Homo sapiens: one gene and its partners. The protein of the gene in region 1 purifies or fractionates together with the protein of each later gene. This does not show direct contact. Each region holds a gene or a part of one and is shown in the gene's direction. Other genes may lie near its edges.

Region 1 (5,118 bases):
TAATGTAACAAATTGTTATTTACGTAACCTCTACTATATGTCTAGCCCTAATACTAAGAAATCAGAAGATAAATAAGGCAATATCCCTTCCTTTTGAGATTTGACTATTAAATATATCTCTGTTTAGACTCTTTCTAGGGCAGACTTTTATCTCCCCTTTTACATTAATACTTTATTTGTTGTACCCCAGAACTTAAAAATTAAAAAAAACTTTATTTGTAAAATTGTTGAAACCTGTTTATTCACTGAGAAGACTTTACTATAAAATTATTCTTAATCTATATGAATTCAGTTCTATTGTGTTACCTTCAAATTGTATGGATTTCAAATGGTGGTAAAAGTTGTAGACATATTTGTCACTATATACTTGACTACAGCACAACTTCATTCTTTTAAATTGAACAAAAAAAACCGTTTTACTTAGGTTGTAGCTTCTAAGGTTCTTTACTCTGAAATCCACTTGAAATGTGTACTTCAGTTTATGATTCACAATTAGGGAAAATCTGTTTTTTCTTTTTCTCATTTTCTTTTCATTCTTTTGTTTCTGTCCTCTGTTGTGGCCTTTCCTTTACCTTCTGAATTCCTTTCTTTCCTTTCCTATAGGCACTGATGTTCTTTACATTGGCCCTCTGAAAGGTGAGCCTTGCCACAATTTAAAGACAAAAAGTGTTGGTCTGTCTGCTTCAGCTATATCCTTATTTTCTAATTCTCTTGAACTGATTTTTTTTCCCCAGAATTTCTGCCAACTTAATTATATTCTTAAGGCTTTATTACGTGTTTTAATGTTATACAAGGAGAATTAATTACACATGTTTTCATAACAGGTAAAATAATATACTAAGCTTTCCTTTCAGAATAAAACTTTTGTTTCACAATGTGCTTTATATCATAATATGTGTTATTATTGAAAAATAAGATGCTGTACTGCATACTTACTACCTGTTTTTCATGTTACTTATTAGGAAGTATATATTCAAGCCCAGGACTGTATAGTAAAACAATGACCCCCACTTATGATGCTCATGATGGAAGCCCCTTGTCACCAACTTCTGCTTGGTTTGGTGACAGTGCTTTGTCAGAAGGCAATCCTGGTATACTTGCTGTCAGTCAACCAATCACGTCACCAGAAATCTTGGCAAAAATGTTCAAGCCTCAAGCTCTTCTTGATAAAGCAAAAATCAACCAAGGGTAAGTTTTAAGATATAGATAAAATTGAATTTCTTCATCCAGCTAGAGGTAGAAATATTGTCTTCATTCTGTGTTGTTTTGTTCCACTGTTCTTAATTTGTCCAGATGGCTTGATTCCTCAAGATCTCTCATGGAACAAGATGTGAAGGAAAATGAGGCCTTGCTGCTCCGATTCAAGTATTACAGCTTTTTTGATTTGAATCCAAAGGTACCGAGGGTTTAAAGGGATCTTTTTTTTTTCCCCATTAATTTGTTTTGTTCACATGGATGTTTGTTTTTGGAAGTCGGTGGAATAAGGAATTATTTGTATATAGGAAATCTTGAATAATTATTAAAAACCCAAACTTTTAGGCAAAGGTATTTGTATTTTAAATAAGTCTATTTTAGTAGGTTGGAAGCATAACTAAACCTTTTTATTGTTGTTATTAAGATAATGAAACTTTTGGCTGATTTGGTTTTATCTTTTTTTTAATCTCTAAGCTCTTAGAGTGTCATGATTTGTATTTTAAAGGTACTCTTTTGGTACTATAGAACTGGCAAAGTTTAGGCCGGGTGCAGTGGCTCAACGCCTGTAATCTCAGCACTTTGAGAACCCAAGGTGGGCGGATCACATGGTCAGGAATTCAAGACCAGCCTGGCCAACATGGTGAAACCCCGTCTCTACTAAAAATACAAAAACTAGCCACGCATGGTGGCACACGCTGGTAATGCCAGCTACTTGGAAGGCTGAGGCAGGAGAATCACTTGAACCTGGAAGACGGAGCTTGCAGTGAGCCGAGATCATGCCACTGCATTCCGGCCTGGGCAACAGGGCAAGACTCCATCTCAAACAAACAAAAAAAAGAATTGGCAAAGTTCATTTTTAAAATATAAGACCTCTCTTCAACTATATTTAAATAAAAGTTTCAAAAAGGTTACCTTTTCAATTACTTTTAGATTACTAATTACGTGCCAAAAGATGTTGCTTCAAAAAAACGTTTTTTTCTTGAGACAGGGTCTCACTCTGTCCTCCAGGCTGGAATGCAGTGGTATGATCATGGCTCACTGTAACCTCAAAGTCCTGGACTCAAGCCATTCTCCCACGTCGCCTCCCAAGTAGCTGGGACTACAGGCTCACCCAGCCACACCTGGCTTTCTTATTTTCTGTAGAGACAGAGTCTCACTATTTCACCCAAGCTGGTCTCAAAACTCCTGGGCTGAAGCCATCCTCCTGCCTCAGCCTCCCAAAGTGCTGGGATTACCGGCCTGAGCCACCATGCTCAGCCAAATTTTTCTTAGGTCTACATTTTTTTCCTCTGTAACAGACAAACACTGTTACTTGTCTTTACTATGATTGGTATTATCTCTGCTACCATAGTACTTCACTTTTCTGGTAAGATTTAACTTTACCATAAATATCTGGAGCTTTTTTCCCCCGTAGAAAACACTTGGCACAGAGGTTTGAATCTTTTACTTCTCTTTCAGCCTGGGGAAAGAAACCTCTCTTGGCTACCCTCTCATCCTTTTCATGTTTAGAGTATAGTCTAGATTTTAATGTTATGTTTACATTCTTTTATTATATGCTTAAGTAATTCTTTATACAACAGTAAAATCTCTATAATAAAATTATAGAAAATAATTTTAATTCATTTTCAGGCCACATCATACCTACTTTTAGTAAAGCCAAAGCTACTTTGGGAATAGTTACATTTGTGAGGGGAATGGAGATGTATTTTGTCAACGTTCTAAAATACATGTTGAGCATTCCTAATTTGAAAATGTAGAATGCTCCAAAAGCTAAGACTTTTGAGGGCTGACATGATGCTGAAAGGATATGCTCATTTTGGATTTTTATGTTAGGGACACTCAACTGGTATAATGGAATATTCCATCATCTATAAAAATTCTAAATTCAACACAGAAGGTCTCAAGCATTCTGGATAAGGGATACTCAATCTGCAGTATTCTTAAGGCATTACTATTGACTTTTATTTATATAATTAAATGGATAATTGAATAACATATAAGTAAACATTTTCCACAAGTATATTTGCCCTGTATTTTGCATACTTAAAATAACTGCCGTTTCCAAGGACTTGCCACTTTATCTGGGTATGCTTCTCCACAGTGAACAAAATGTTCCCCAGAATAATTTGCTTTCTGATTACATGTTTGTATGGCAAGTTGCAGTAATAACACTGAAAAATAATCGGTAGTTCCGCCTTACTTTAATGTCATCAAATTAGATTTCTTATGTTAAAGGCTATAATGTCTAGTGGTTATTTCCCTGAAAAATAACATACAGAATCTACTTTTTAATACTGTACAATCAATTATTCTCTGTCATATTTTAATGTCATTTTTAATGGAAAATTAGATGTGGGCATATATAGGCATGTCTGACCCCATAGGTATCCTTCTAATAATACTTGATTGTAAATAAAAATTCTTGCTTGTAAATTAAGATCCCAGGAAAAAAAGCATTAAATTTTTCTTGTCAATTGAATATTCAGAGTTTGAAATTTTTCAATGGTAAAGGTTATATATTACAAAAGAACTATTTCTCTTGTTGCAGTATGATGCAATCAGAATCAATCAGCTTTACGAGCAGGCCAAATGGGCCATTCTCCTGGAAGAGATTGAATGCACAGAAGAAGAAATGATGATGTTTGCAGCCCTGCAGGTAGTTGAAAGGTCTAGTAAATGGGACTTATTCCGGTAAAGGGTAGGGAGGTATTTTTAAACAGTAAAGTGGAATAGTAATTCCAGTAACATTTCACGAGACAGAATTTTTGCCATGAAGAAAGTGAGTAGACACTTAGGAAAGCAAAACAAATACATTTTAGTTTGATTTTTTATCTTTTCCAAGAGTTCAGTGGTATACTTAAGTACTTTTCTCTATTTTGTAGGAAAAAAATTATCCTATTTTGTAGGAAAAAAATTATCCTCTCACCCCCAAATATAAATCTGCTCAAAGCTCCTCAGTTTTTCCTTGGAAAGAAAATATTTATTAAAAATCAGATTTCTGAAATCTAATCTGAAGCTTACCTGTATAATTTCATAAATAGCCAGGGATGATACAACACACTATAAAATGGGCTGTAGCAAAGCGATGCTTTTAGGTGATAAGATTTAGAGAGACTAGTGGAACCAAACCTTTTTCTACAATGATAATCCTTAAGTAGATAGCTAACATTGTCCTTAGATTAAACCAGTTTTTTCATATGTGGTTCTTACATACCACCTCCTTCAGAATTATAGGGGAGCTTATTTAAAAATTAATTATCCACTTCATGAATAACTTTAAGGTGGCATCCACACATCCACATTCTTACAGATACTGAGGTCTGATGACCAAATTAATTCATCTTTCTTAAATTTCAGATACCCGAGTAATGCTTTGGCAAGTATTCCCAGTTATGACGGGATTCTAGGTTCAGCCTAAAGTCCTGATGAAGTTGGTGTTCTATAAATAACAGAAGTACAGGAAGCAGAGTTGACATTCAGTTGAAGAACTTTTCACTGTAGAAGGGATTTTGTTTTTCCTTAGAACACAAACAAAAATGCTCTCAGTCTTCCAAATGCCTCCTTTATGCATCCAGAAAAGTTTTCAGTTGTGACCCAAAAAGTTGACATTAGAAAGCAAGAATGGGGAGTGAGGTTAGCAAAAAAAAAAAAAAAAAAAAAAAAGCAAGAACAGCTAATTTTCACCTTAGTTTTACATAATGAAAGGAGTGGCAAAGAAGCATAGACAAGGAAAATAAATCCCAGGTGACAGATGGATTAATCAGTTATTTTCTAGGAACTTGATTAATGAGCCAGTTAGGATCCCGTATTGTGTTTCCAGATAATTCTGACTCTCTGGTGAATTTCTTGAATTAAATTCTGGAGCAGTTTGTTGGGAGTCCCCTCACGTGGTTATGGCTTTCTTCCTGCATCCTCCTCACTTTG
Region 2 (4,684 bases), on another chromosome or scaffold:
GAGATCGAGACCATCCTGGCTAACATGGTAAAACCCCATCTCTACTAAAAATACAAAAAATTAGCCGGGCCTGGTGGTGTGCACCTGTACCTGTAGTCCCAGCTACTCGGGATGCTGAGGCAGAAGAATCGCCTGAACCCAGGAGGTGGAGCTTGCAGTGAGCCGAGATCGCACCACTGCACTCCAGCCTGGGTGACAGAGAGAGACTCCATCTCAAAAAGAAAAAAAAGATTGGGATAAAAACAGTATGTTTTCATTCAAAGAAAATTTCTCTTTGAGACAGGGTCTTGCTTTGTCACCCAGTGCAGTGGCATGATCATAGCTCACTGCATCCTCGACTTCCTGGGCTCAAGCCATCCTCCCACCTCAACCTCTCAGGTAGCTGAGACTGTAGGCTTGCACCACCACACTGCGCTATTTTTTCTTTTTTTTTTTTTTTAATTTTTGTAGGCCAGGTGCAGTGGCTTATACCTGTAATCCTAGCATTTTGGGAGGCCAAGGTGAGCAGATTGCCTGAGTTCAGGAGTTTGATGTGGTAAAACCCTATCTCTACAAAAATTAGCTAGGTGTGGTGGCGTGTGCCTGTAGTTCCAGCTACTCAGGAAACTGAGGCAGAAGGATCACTTGAGCCCAGGTGGTCAAGGCTTCAGTGAGCCATGACTATACCACACCAACCTGGGCAACAAAGCAAGACCCTGTCTCAAAAATAAATAAATAAATAAATAAAGCCAGGCGTGGTGGCTCACACCTATAATCCTAGAACTTTGGGAGGCCGGGGCGGGCAGATCACGATGTCAAGAGATCAAGACCATCCTGGCAAACATGGTGAAACCCCGTCTTTACTAAAAATACAGCCGGGCACGGTGGCTTAACGCCTGTAATCCCAGCACTTTGGGAGGCTGAGGAGGGTGGATCACAAGGTCAAGAGTTCAAGACCAGCTTGGCCAAGATGGTGAAATCCCGTCTCTACTAAAAATATAAAAATTAGCCAGGCGTGGCGGCAAGCACCTGTAATCCCAGCTACTCAGGAGGCTGAGGCAGGAGAATCACTTGACCTGGGAGGGGGAGGTAGCAGTGAGCAGAGATCACGCCACTGCATTTTAGCCTGGGAGACAGAGCAAGACTCTGTCTCAAAAAACAAAAAAATTACAAAAATTAGCTGGGCGTGATGGCGTGTGCCTGTAGTCCCAGCTACTCAGGATGCTGAGGCAGGAGAATAGCTTGAACCCAGGAGGCGGAGGTTGCGGTGAGCCGAGATCACGTCATTGCACTCCAACCTGGTGACAGAGCAAGACTCAGTCTCAAAAAAAATAATTAATTAATGTTTTATAGAGAGGAGGTCTTCACAGGTTGCCTAGGCTGGTCTTGAACTCCTGGGCTCAGGCAGTCCTCCCACCCTGGCCTCCCAAAGTGCTGGGATTATTGATATGAGCCTCTGTGCTTGACCCAAAACATATTTATTGAGCCCCATCCTGTGCCTGTCATGGTTCTATGCACTGGGTGTGCAGTGGCGAACAAGCCAGACACAGTCTCTGCTCTAACGGTACTTGTATTCTGATGAAGGGAGGCAGAAAGCAACAGGAAAGCATATCAGACAGTGGTATGCAGAGAGTGATGGAGGCTACTCTAGACTGGAACACGGAGGAAGGCCTCTTTGAGGAAATGATTTCTTGGTGTTTTTTGTTTTGGTTTGGTTTGGTTTGAGACAGGGTCTAGCTCTGTCACCCAGGCTGGAGTGCAGTAGTGCAATCTCAGCTCACTGCACCATCTGCCTGCTGGGCTCAAGCGATCCTCCCACCTCAGCCTTCCAAGTAGCTGGGACCACAGGCGTACTCCACCATGCCTGGTGAATTTTTATATTTTTGGTAAAGACAGGGTTTCACCATGTTGCCCAGGCTGGTCTTAAACTCCTGAGCTCAAGCAGTCCTCCTACCTCAGCCTCCCAGAGTGCTGGGATTATAGGTGTAAGCCACTACACCCGACCCTTCTTCCCAATTTTAACACTAAAAGAAAATTAGAAAAATTGGCCGGGCACGGTGGCTCACACCTGTAATCCCAGCACTTTGGGAGGCCGAGGCGGGTGGATCACAAGATCAGGAGATCGAGACCATCCTGGCTAACACGGTGAAACCCCGTCTCTACTAAAAATACAAAAAATTAGCCAAGCGTGGTGGCAGGCACCTGTAGTACCAGCTGCTCAGGAGGCTGAGGCAGGAGAATGGCGTGAACCCAGGAGGCGGAGCTTGCAGTGAGCCGAGATCGTGCCACTGCACTCCAGCCTGGGTGACAGAGCGAGACTCTGTCTCAAAAAAAAAAAAAATTAGAAAAATTACATGCTTTTCTCTTGACTGTCTGCCAACTATCATAGTAGGTAACTTTGGGAAATGGATGCATTGAGTTCTGAAATGGATGTATTTGAGAGGTAGAACACCGTGTTTAGAAAGTCCTTGTAGGCCGGGCGCAGTAGCTCACACCTGTAATCCCAGCACTTTGGGAGGCCAAGGCGGGTGGATCACCTGAGGTCAGGAGTTCAAGACCAGCCTGGCCAACATGACAAAACCCCGTCTCTACTAAAAATACAAAAATTAGCTGGGCTTGGTAGCACATGCCTGTAATCCCAGCTACTAGGGAGGCTGAGGCAGGAAAATTGCTTGAACCCAGGAGGCGGAGGTTGCAGTGAGCCGAGATCACACCATCGCACTCCAGCCTGGGCAACAGAGCAGACTCCGTCTCAAAAAAAAAAAAGAAAGTCAGAAAGTCCCTGTAGATTTCTAAGCGTCTGTGTTTGTTTGTTAGATGCTTGTTGACGCTCCCTGCTCAGACCTGGCTCAGGAACTACGTCAGAGTTGTGCCACCGTCCAGCGGCTGCAGCACACACTCCAACAGGTGCTTGACCAAAGAGAGGAAGTGCGTCAGTCCAAGCAGCTCCTGCAGCTGTACCTCCAGGCTTTGGAGAAAGAGGGCAGCCTCTTGTCAAAGCAGGAAGGTAGGACTCTCTGCAGGCAGAGTCACTCTGAGAATTCAGGGCTGATGGAGGCGTCCCTTGGGAGGACACTATTTGTGATGTAGCCAGGGCCACTGAAGCCGCGGCTGCTGGGATGCGGGACGGGCACGTTTCTCTCTTGCCCGGCCAGTTATTCTGGCGAGTTGTTCATGTGGCTGTGTGGTCACACCACGTCTGATCTCTGTCTCGTGTCTCCTTTGCAGAGTCCAAAGCTGCCTTTGGTGAGGAGGTGGATGCAGTAGACACGGGTATCAGCAGAGAGACCTCCTCGGACGTTGCGCTGGCGAGCCACATCCTTACTGCACTGAGGGAGAAGCAGGCTCCAGAGCTGAGCTTATCTAGTCAGGATTTGGAGGTGGGCGGAAACCAGGGTCACTGAGCTACAGAGGAGGACATGCCCTGGGATGTAGTAGTATCATGCAGAGGTGTGTGGGCCCTTTTGTTCACCTCTGCAGACTGTGAATCCTAGCTGCCAGTTTGCCTATTATATGCCAAGGCATTTGCAAAAATCTCATTAATCTAAATCAAAATAGCTTTAAAGAAAAATGCATACACTTCCTCAGATCATCAAACAGACTCTGGTCCAAGGTTGGTAATGAAATGACTGTTCCTGACAGGGAGGAATAGCAGGGCCCAATCTTCTGAGATGGCTTCTGGGTCTTTCCATGGTCAGAGAAGATCTATAGTCCGTCCTGAGGTCTGTCAATGTCACAGGAAAAGGCAAACTTGAGGGGATCGTCGCCTGCTGGCTAAGACCAGGGAGCTAAAAACTTGAGGAAGGGAACCTGCCTGGGTGGGTGCTACTTCTGATTCATTGTCCTTGTCCCTGTCATAAGTACCTCCCTATTGTAGATAGAAGGGAAGGAAACTGTTGACTTGAGCTTGGCTAAATTTCCTGAAGGTGGAGGACCTTAGAGTTGCTCCAAGTAAACTTTCCAAGGACTTCTTCCTGTTGGTGTTGTAAGAAAAGGCCCATGCTTGTCCGGGCACAGTGGCTTACGCCTGTTAATGCCAGTACTTTGGGAGGCCGAGGCAGGTGGATCACCTGAGGTCAGGAGTTCGAGACCAGCCTGACCAACATGGCGAAACCCCATCTCTACTAAAAATACAAAAATTAGCCTGGCATGGTGGTGGGAGGCTGAAGCAAGAGAATCACTTGAACCCAGGAGGTGGAGGTTGCGTGAGCTAAGATCGCGCCACTGCACTCCAGCCTGGGCGACAAGAGTGAAACTCCGTCTTAAAAAAGCCCATGGCAGGCTGGGCGCGGTGGCTCACGCCTGTAATCCCAGCACTTTGGGAGGCCAAGGTGGGCGGATCACAAGGTCAGGAGATCGAGACCATCCTGGCGAACACGGTGAAACCCCGTCTCTACTAAAAAAAATACAAAAAAATTAGCCAGGCGTGGTCGTGGGCACCTGTAGTCCCAGCTACTCAGGGGGCTGAGGCAGGAGAATGGCGTGAATCCGGGAGGCGGAGCTTGCAGGGAGCCGAGATAGTGTCACTGCACTCCAGCCTGGGTGACAGAGCGAGACTCCGTCTCAAAAAACAAAAAGCCCGTGGCAATTAATGGTAAAGGAAACCCGGCATTTCAGTGTAAAGAGGTAACATAAACGGATACTGCCTCATTGCACTCCCCAAAAGAGAGTCAGGAGAGCAGCAGGAGAGGCGCACAGAAGGCCC
Region 3 (4,684 bases), on another chromosome or scaffold:
CACATGGCAAGTAGGCAATAAATGTCAGGTATTATTTTTTATTATAACTACTACTGACAGCATAGAAAGTCTATGGGTTCATTAAGGATCTCAGAGTTTCCTGACATTGTATGGAAAATTCTATAAGATTGTGCATTTTTCTGGAAAGAGAGGTAGTAGCTTTTGTCAGATTTTGCAAAGAGCCTGTGTCTTAGTCTGGTCTGCTACAACGCAATCCCTCATGAGTTGCTTAAACAACAGAAATTCATTTCTCACAGTTCTGGAGGCTGAAAGTCCCAGATGAAGGTGCTAGCAGGGTCAGGTTCTTGGTGAGGACCTTCTTTCTGCCTTGCAGACAGCTGTCTTCTGGCTGTGTCCTCACTTGGTGGAGATAGAGAAAGCAAGCTCTCTCGGGTCTCCTTTTATAAGGGTACAAATCTTATCATGAGGGCTCCACCCTCATGACCTGTTTGCCTCCCAGAGGCCCATCTCCAAATACCATCCTATTAGAGATGAGGGTTTCAAAGTATGAATTTTGGGAGGACACAGACATTCAGTCCATTGCGAGCTGTGACCCAGAAATGTTTAAGAAATGTAGACTTACACATCAACATCTATGTAAAGGGAGAAGTTTTTAGGTTTTGGCAGTCTTTCTTCCATGCTTTTAAACAATTTTTGAGTCAAGCATTCTGTTTTACCCATTGTAGAAGCAATGAGAAAACACAGCTAAACAAAAAGAGACTAAAAGTTACCGGTAATCTTCCCACCCAGAGATGGTGAATTTGTAACGTTCTAAAATTTGTGATCACATTAGCCCAGAGATAACCACTTGAACATTTAAAAATATATCCTGTCAAAACACTTTCTGCACATAAATATGCCAATAAGTATCCAGAGATCTTCCCTCCCTGCCACTGTCTCTGTATTGCTTTCTCTTCTTCTCTCCCTCCCATTTTCCCTCTGTTCCTTTCTACTTTACATTCCAGTAAAATTCAAATGAATACAAAAGTAGAGGCAGTAGTATGGTATTTCCCATGTGTGTATTATTCAGGATCAGTGATTGTTAACACTTTGGCCAATCCTAATCCTCCCCGCCAACCCCCCAACCCCAACACACCCTTTTTACCTTGCAATTTATTTTTTAAAGAAATCAGGGTGTTTGTCCTATAGCATTTCCCACATTCTGGAAACATTCTTGTGGTGTACTTTAACATGTATGGTAAAATGGCAGTATGTTTCTACCACCCTACTCTTTGTTTTTATTTTTATTTTATTTTTTTAATTTTTTTTGAAACAGAATCTCGCTCTGCTGCCTAGGCTGGAGTACAGTGGCTTGATCTCAGCTCGCTCCAACCTCTGCCTCCCGGGTTCAAGTGATTCTCCTGCCTAAGCAGGAGCTGGGATTACAGGCGCCCACCACCACGCCTGGCTAACTCTTGTATTTTTAGTAGAGATGGGATTTCACCATGTTGGCCAGGCTGGTTTCGAACTCCTGACCTCAAGTAATCTGCCTGCTTTGGGCTCCCAAAGTGCTGGGATTACAGGCGTGAGCCACTGCACCTGGCCCCTACTTTTTGTTTTTATTTAATTAATCTATTTTATATTCATTTTTCTCTCTTCTTTTGGATCAATGAAATATTTTTCATTTTTTTGGCATCTAATGTATTACATTTCCAAATTCATTTAGAGGTTGCTCTAGAGATTACAACATGCATCCTTGACTTATTTCATTTTGTTTCCACTTTTCCAACAGTTAGAGCCTTTAATATACTTTATCGCCCTCTGTCTTTTGTGTTACCATTTTGTGATGAACTCATGAATTTTAACATATTTCATGTGTTTTAATCCATTATAGTTTTTTATTCCTTTTGATATTCAGTTTATTTTCAGAATAACTTTGTATACGTTTAAACATCAAAATTAGGGCTATATTGTAAATATGACAATTGACAGATTTTCAGTCTTTTTCATTTAATAAGGGTGTACTCCTTCTCACCATCCTTACCTCACCTCTTAAATCTATTCTGTTGCCACTCCCTGTCTGCTCTATCTCCCTTAAGATACTTTTCTTCCTCCCTGCTACTCCCATCCTGGCTCAGGCACCCATCAACTCTTGGCTGGCAGTCTCAACTAAACTACTGTAGTAACTCCTACTGGATTCTCTGTTTTTTCCTCTGGCCTTCCTCCATGTTACTCTCCTACCTAAAGTACAGTAGTGGCCTGCAGTCTCACTGAAAATACCACTGCCTACAAATTCTTATGTAAGCTGGCTCTGTCTGTCTCTGCAGGGTCATCTTTGCCATTCTGTTTCTTACTCTAGCTTCAGTGTAGCTTCTCAAGCCTTTCAAATCCCTTCCTGCTTCAGGTCCTTTGCACATGCCACTTTCTGTCTGGAATGCACACCACCTGCCCCTGTTGCTTGACTAAATCCTCTTCAGGTTTCAACTTGTGTTAAAACCCGAGAGAGGCCTTCTCTGAACTTCCAACTTAATGAAGTCACCTTGTATCATCTTACAATAGTCTAATTTTCTGTGATAGCACTTTGTTGTATTTATATATTTATCTATATGTATTTCGTATGCAGCATCTATCTTTCTTACTAAACTGTAAGATTGATGAGGACAGGGATAGTGTCGGTCTTGCTTCTCTCTCTGGTGCCCAAGGAGTATTTGACATATAATAATTAATAAATAGTTGAGTGAATAAATAAATGAAAATGTTTGTCATGTTTCTTGAAGAAGAAAACTATATGCTATGGGAAAAGATTTTGATTTATTTCATGAGGTAGAATTGAGGAATGATTTATAGTAAAGCCTGGTCTAGACTGGTAAGTCTTGAAATTATTTTTTAAATTAGGAAATATATCATTTTTTTAAAGAAGTATATGTGTGTGTGTATAACGTATGTTTATATATAGGCCACATATACATTTTAAAGAATAGTTTAAAAAATCCATATGCCCAACACCTATAAAAAAATGGAACATTAACAATAACTTTGAAACCCACTGTGTACTTCTTTGCAATTTAATTTTCCTCTCAGTCTCATCCTTTGCCCAGGAGGTGATCACTGTCTTCCATTTTGTGTGTCAATACTATCTTTTCTTTGTAGTTGTACATACATACGCATGTGTATTTCTAGACATTTACTTAGTTCTGCATGTTTATGGCTTTTATATAGATGAAATCACATACATGTATTCTTCTAAACTTGCTATTATCATTAAAGGTTATATTAATATTTTTGAGAATTGGCCATTTCTTGTAGCATGGTTCATTCATTGTTATCATTTTGTAGTATACCATTGTAGGAATATACTGCAGTTTGTTTTTCTGTTCTTCTATGGTGTGTCTAGTTTTTGGCTTGTAGACAGTGCTGCTACAAACTATCTCCTGGTCCCCATGGGCAAAATTCTCTCTGGGGTATCCTTTTGGGAGCAGAATTGCTGGCCATAGGGCATGTGCATCTTCAGATTTCCTAGGTAGTGCCAAATTGTTTCTAAAGTGGTGGTAAGTTAGTTACATTAGTAGAGGTTTTTTTTTTTTTATGTGTGTGAGACAGACTCTTGCTCTGTTACCCAGGCTGGAGTGTAGTAACACGATCTTGGCTCACTGCAACCTCTGCGTCCCAGGTTCAAGCAATTCTCCTGTCTCAGCCTCTGGAGTAGCCTGGATTACAGGTGTGCACCACCACGCCCGGCTAATTTTTGTATTTTTAGTAGAGATGAGGTTTTACCAAGTTGGTCAGGCTGGTCTTGAACACCTGACCTCAGGTGATCTGCCCACCTCAGCCTCACAAAGTGCTGGGATTACATACGTGAGCCACAGTGTGCAGTAACATTAATAGAGTTTCTAATGTTGACCCCACTTTGTATTTTTGTAATAAACTGAATTGGGGCTTTATCTTTTATATACATTGTTGGATTGTGAGATCTACGATTTTTAGGATTTTTTTGCCACTATATTTATTGCTGAGATTGGCTTGAACTTTTCCTCTCTCTACTGTACTTGTCTGGTTTTGCTATCAACATTCTGTAAAATTAGTTCTCTCTTTTCTTTGGAAGAGCTTCTATAAGTTTTTATCTATCTGTTCTTTGAATGTTTGATAGAACTGGTGACCTATTTTTGCATATCTGAAATATATAGTTCAGTTTGGCTTGTTTTTGATATTTTGATACATATAAATATGTATCCTTTGTGTTTTGCCTTTTGCTCAGTATCCCTTGTGAGATTCATTTGTGTTGTTGCATGATGCTTTAGTTTATTCGTTTTTATTGCTGTATGGTATTCTGTTGCATGAATGTGCCACAGTTTACTAATTCATTTTACTGTTGTTGGATATTTGGCTATTGCCAGTTTGGGGCAATATGAACAATGCAGCTATGAGCATTTTAATACATTTACTCTAGTGCACCTGAACCCATTTTCTCTAGGATGTGCACATCAGGTAAATCTGTTAGGTCATATGGTATGCTTTTCATTAACATCATTAGAAAGTGTCAAATTCCCAAAATGGTTATACCACTTTACACACTGAGTATATGAGCGAGTGCTTTCATTTCTCTACATCATCTGTCCCTGCTATTCTCATGTCTTCACTTTTGCTAATCTAGTGGCTTTGTACAGTATTCTTTTATTCAGTAAATATGTGGGGTTTTTTTCCCACATTTGCTATGTAAAAGCCTGAAGCACTGAGCGTACAGTGA
Region 4 (4,595 bases), on another chromosome or scaffold:
TCAGAGACGTGTCCCTCCACCCGTGTGGCCATGTGTTGTTCCATCCTAAAGCTATGGCACACTCCCATCATGTCCCTCAGTGCAAACCCACCGAGCCCTGTGGTAGGGACGCAGTGTCTAGGAAGGCCTCAGAGCCTTCAGATGTGGGGAGGGTGAGCTGGCAGTGGACGGAGGAGGAAAGGGGCCTGCAGAATGGGGGCCGTGCCCAGGCAAGGAGGATGCACAGTCTAGGCAGCCAGGCTGAGGGGCGAGGGACCCTGTGTCCTGGACAGGCTCCATGGTTCTCCCTCAGAGCCTGGGATGGCCATGCCCTCCAGGCCTCTGGAGGGGTGCAGGAGTGATGAACAGCCTGTGCGGCAGCCCCTCTGCAGCACAGCCAGCCCTGCCCGGCGGGCCAGACTCCCACACACGCCATCTAGAGCCAGCTGGCACACCCGCACAGGTGTCAGAGGATGTTAGCAGTGACTGTTTTTCTCCTCTTGAAACCAGAAGCTGTGGCCAGCTTCACTGCTGGTCCGTGCAAGTCCCCATTGTCCTGGGAACAGGGCCCCCATCTGTAGCTGGACTTGGGGCGCACAGGCCTCCTGGGCCGGGAGGGAGAAGCAGGACTCTCTCTGTCCCTGATCTGGACCTGAGCCTGCTGTGCCTACATTTCTAGGCGGGAGCAGAGTCTCCTACCTACCCTCCTGGCTCCTGGATGGCAGAGGGGCATGTTGGCCACATGTGGAGGGGTGGGCCAGGAGCAGGGGCCATCTTGTTGGACCAGGGCACAGCTCCTGGGGGAAGGCACGCTTCTCTGCCATTGGTTTTAGTGAAGACTAAGTTTTTTGTTTTTGTTTTTTAAAGAAATGTGTAGATGTACCAGGATTTGGTTGTTTTTCTTTTTTTTCTTTCTTTTTTTTTGGTTTGAGACAGAGTCTCACTCTGTCACCCAGGCTGGAGTGCAGTGGCACAATCTCGGCTCACTGCAAGCTCCACCTCCCGGGTTCACGCCATTCTCCTGCCTCAGCCTCCCAGTTAGCTGGAACTACAGGTACCTGCCACCACGCCTGGCTAATTTTTTGTGTTTTTTAGTAGAGACAGTGTTTCACCGTGTTAGCCAGGATGATCTCTATCTCCTGACCTCGTGATCCGCCCGCCTCAGCTTCTCAAAGTGCTGGGATCACAGGTGTGAGCCATCGCACCCGGCCTTGCTTATTTTTTCTTTTAGAGATAGAGTCTCACTCTGTCGCCCAGGCTGGAGTGCAGTGGTGTGATCACAGTTCATTGCAGCCTCAAACTCCTGGGCTTGAGGGATTCTCCCACTTCAGCCTCCCAAAAGGTTGGGATTACAGGTGTGACCGTATCTGGCTGATGAAGACTTAGTTAATTAGCATCTAGAGAGGAGCCCACAGGCTGAGTGAATCCTGACCATAGGGCCCAGGGTTGAGGACTTGGAGCCAGGACAGGGGCTAGACACTCCACAGAGAGCAAGAGGACGTAGAGCAGGGGGCAGGGTGTCTCACCCCGTCTTCCGCACAGACCCCTCTCCGCCCTTCATTGAGGCCTTCGAGAGCAGGGCAGGGCCAGAGCCTCTCTCCCACGGCCACCTGGTCTTCATGGCCTGTCTTCTTGTGCTTTGCAGCAAATGTCCTCCATGGTCATAGAGCACATGGCATCTCATGGCACCCGGTTCCTGAGGGGCTGTGCCCCCTCGCGGGTCAGGAGGCTCCCTGATGGCCAGCTGCAGGTCACCTGGGAGGACAGCACCACCGGCAAGGAGGACACGGGCACCTTTGACACCGTCCTGTGGGCCATAGGTAAGGGCACGTCGAGCCACACGCTCTGTCTCTGGTCTCCCCGAGGTGCATGGAGAATCTTTGCCCCACTTCCTGTCACCTCCCAGGGCTCCCCCATCCTGCTGGCTGCCAGGCGGGTTGGCCGCTCCCCAGTGCACCTCGAGAGCAACCGTGAAGGCCTGTGGGGCGGCACTCACACTAGGCTGTGCCCATCTTGCCATCCCCAGCACCTTGCATCTCTGCGTGTCTCCCCACCACCGTGGGACATGCTGGAAAAAACCAGAGAAGAGACTGAGACGGCATCAGCCAGGTGTCCTCATCGAGGATCAACTAGGCAATCATCCTCGCCTTCCCTGGCCCTTGAGCAATTGCTTATTAAGGTTTCAGCACATAAATCCTACTTGTCACCTTCCAGGTTTAAGTCTTGGTATGTTTCTTTTCTTTTTTTTTTTTTTTTTGAGATGGAGTCTCGCTCTGTCGCCCAGGCTGGAGTGCAGTGGCAACCTCCGCCTCCCGGGTTCAAGCGATTCTCCTGCCTCAGCCTCCTGGGTAGCTGGGGCTACAGGCGCCCACCACTACACCTGACTAATTTTTGTATTTTTAGTAGAGACGGGGTTTCACCATGTAGGCCAGGATGGTCTCAATCTCCTGACCTTGTGATCCACCTGCCTTGGCCTCCCAAAGTACTGAGATTACAGGTGTGAGCCACCGCACCTGGCCAGTATGTATTTTTTCTTTAGCATATTAAATGTTTTGCTGCTTCAGGCTTTCCAGCTAGGTTTTTTTCTTTTTTTGCGTGTGAAACAGGGTCTCTCTCTGTTGCCTAGGAGGAGTGTGGTGGTGTGATCATAGCTCACTGCAGCCTCCACCTCCCAGGCTCAATCAATCTTCCCATCTCAGCCTTCTAAGTGCTGGGATTACAGGTTTGAGCTACTGTGCCCAGCCAAGCTAGTTTGTTGTTTTTAACATAAAAATGATATGGATTTGAAAGTTTTAAAAATTATGGTGACATACACATAACATCAAATTCATCATCTTAAGCATTTTAAAGTATATAGTTCAGTGGTGTTAAGTACGTTCATATTGTACAAGCAGCATGACCATCCATCTCTAGAACTTTTCCATTATCTCCAAACTGAGCTCTGTCCCCATTAAACACTCACTCCCTGCTGCCCGGGCACTCACCCTTCACTGTGTGTCTCTATGGATCTGACTCCTCGAGGGACTTCATGTAAGTAGAATCATGCAGTGTTTGTCCTTTTGTGACTGGCTCATTTCTCTTAGCACAATGTTTTCAGGGTGCATCCATGTTGCAGCATTTGTTAGAGTTAGCATTTGTGTAGCATGTGCCAGCATTTCCTTCCTGTTGAAGGCTGAGTTGTATGTGTGTCCATTATCTGTCAGTGGACACTTAGGTTGCTTCCGTCTTTTGGCTGTTGTGGATCATGCTGCTGTGAACATGGGTGTGCACAAGCCGCCTGTTTTCAGCACATAAAAATGACACAGAGTTTTTAAAGTTCTGTCCAGCCTTCTCGTGGCTTTCAGTGTTTCCCAGTGGGTCCCTTTGGGCCTGGCAGGTCATCACATGCCAGGAGTGGCATTTTGCAGGCCTTTCCAGAAGTCACATTTCGAAGGCTTCCAAAGACATCACCCTTCCAGTGCTGGGCAGAGGCCTGGGCGTTTCCCGGCCAGGCGTGGGCTGGCTACAACTTGCTGGGCACAGTCTGGTCTCACCTTCTTGCTCTCTGTCAGGTGTAGGTCCGGTTTTGCATGGGGCAGTGGCCGAGCAGGTGTGGGGAGTGTGGACACAGCCAGGGGATACCTGTGCCCAGGCCTGGGCCGGGGCTGTCTGACGGGACTGGCAAGGGGCAGCTGGAGCCAACAGGGATCGCCCAGACACTGCTCTGTCCCAGGCCTGCTGCAGAGGAGGCCATTGCAGATGGGCCGCCGCAAGGAGGGCTGCGGGTCCTCGTCAGGGTGGGTGGCGGCACACACAGCATGCCTGCTCAGATGTCCTACCCACCTCGGTGCCTGGCCGTCTAGTTTAGGCTCCTAGTTTTCCCAATCACCCTGTCAACTTGCATGTTGAAGGCGGGAGCAACCTAGTCAGTGTTGTTAGTTCTCCGAGGCCTTTCTGTGCTGAGCCTGGTCCGTTGTCCCCTGCGAGAGCCCAAGATCAGAGCCAGGGTCCCTCTCAGATCACCTGCCTCCACCTCCATCAGCTAACCGGGCTTGCGTGGGGCTGGCCAGGGGTCAGTGTCTCCTGGGGGAGGGCTCCCAGAGGCACAAGCTGTGTCATAGGGTGATGCACTTCTGAAGCAGTCACTCGGAATGGGAAATCAGAAAGGAAACCAGCCTGGAGCGGCTGAGGCTTCACTTTTGTGCAGTGGACACAAGCGCAGAGGTGATGACCGGGGAGGACCTGAGATGCCTGAGCGCACGCAGGGCTCTTGGCCCGGAGGTGATCAGTCAGCAAGAGCAATGTTCTCAGCCACGTTGTAAAAGTAGATTTTAAGTAAGTTTATTATGATAAACACTACGAAGGATTAGGTAACATTTTGGACTCTGGAGTGTACTGATGGTTCTCATCCTAAACTCCACTTTATTTTTCTTTCAAAATTTATCCTCCTACTGTCATTCCCAAATAAACTCCACTCTAAAGGGGAGGTGGCGAGTTTCTCCCTCCCACCGCGCCCTAGCCCTCCTCCTCTGTCTGCTGACACCTCCGTTCACCCACAGCATAAGGGAGCTGTTGCCATTGAACCGAGGGGCAGCCCTCGACCAAGCCCATAGGGATGTAGCAGACCAATGGGCCGG

The links.
Region 2: the proteins of FERMT2 (region 1) and DFFA fractionate together in Homo sapiens (co-fractionation; one large-scale study listed by BioGRID). This does not show direct contact.
Region 3: the proteins of FERMT2 (region 1) and USP46 purify together in Homo sapiens (co-immunoprecipitation; one large-scale study listed by IntAct). This does not show direct contact.
Region 4: the proteins of FERMT2 (region 1) and TXNRD2 fractionate together in Homo sapiens (co-fractionation; one large-scale study listed by BioGRID). This does not show direct contact.

What each region holds. Positions count from the first base shown.
Region 1 is NC_000014.9:52,877,314-52,882,431, reverse strand, and holds part of FERMT2 (fermitin family homolog 2), read left to right. Parts: intron 1-603; coding exon of another isoform or gene 604-636; intron 637-962; coding exon 963-1,188; intron 1,189-1,293; coding exon 1,294-1,396; intron 1,397-3,742; coding exon 3,743-3,850; intron 3,851-5,118. UniProt on the Homo sapiens protein: Scaffolding protein that enhances integrin activation mediated by TLN1 and/or TLN2, but activates integrins only weakly by itself. Binds to membranes enriched in phosphoinositides.
Region 2 is NC_000001.11:10,461,733-10,466,416, reverse strand, and holds part of DFFA (DNA fragmentation factor subunit alpha), read left to right. Parts: intron 1-2,796; coding exon 2,797-2,986; intron 2,987-3,207; coding exon 3,208-3,359; coding exon of another isoform or gene 3,360-3,383; exon of another isoform or gene 3,384-4,684. UniProt on the Homo sapiens protein: Inhibitor of the caspase-activated DNase (DFF40).
Region 3 is NC_000004.12:52,620,505-52,625,188, reverse strand, and holds part of USP46 (ubiquitin carboxyl-terminal hydrolase 46), read left to right. Parts: intron 1-4,684. UniProt on the Homo sapiens protein: Deubiquitinating enzyme that plays a role in behavior, possibly by regulating GABA action. May act by mediating the deubiquitination of GAD1/GAD67.
Region 4 is NC_000022.11:19,892,611-19,897,205, reverse strand, and holds the end of TXNRD2 (thioredoxin reductase 2, mitochondrial isoform 5 precursor), read left to right. Parts: intron 1-1,624; coding exon 1,625-1,799; intron 1,800-2,005; coding exon 2,006-2,073; 3' UTR 2,074-3,298; downstream 3,299-4,595. UniProt on the Homo sapiens protein: Involved in the control of reactive oxygen species levels and the regulation of mitochondrial redox homeostasis. Maintains thioredoxin in a reduced state. May play a role in redox-regulated cell signaling.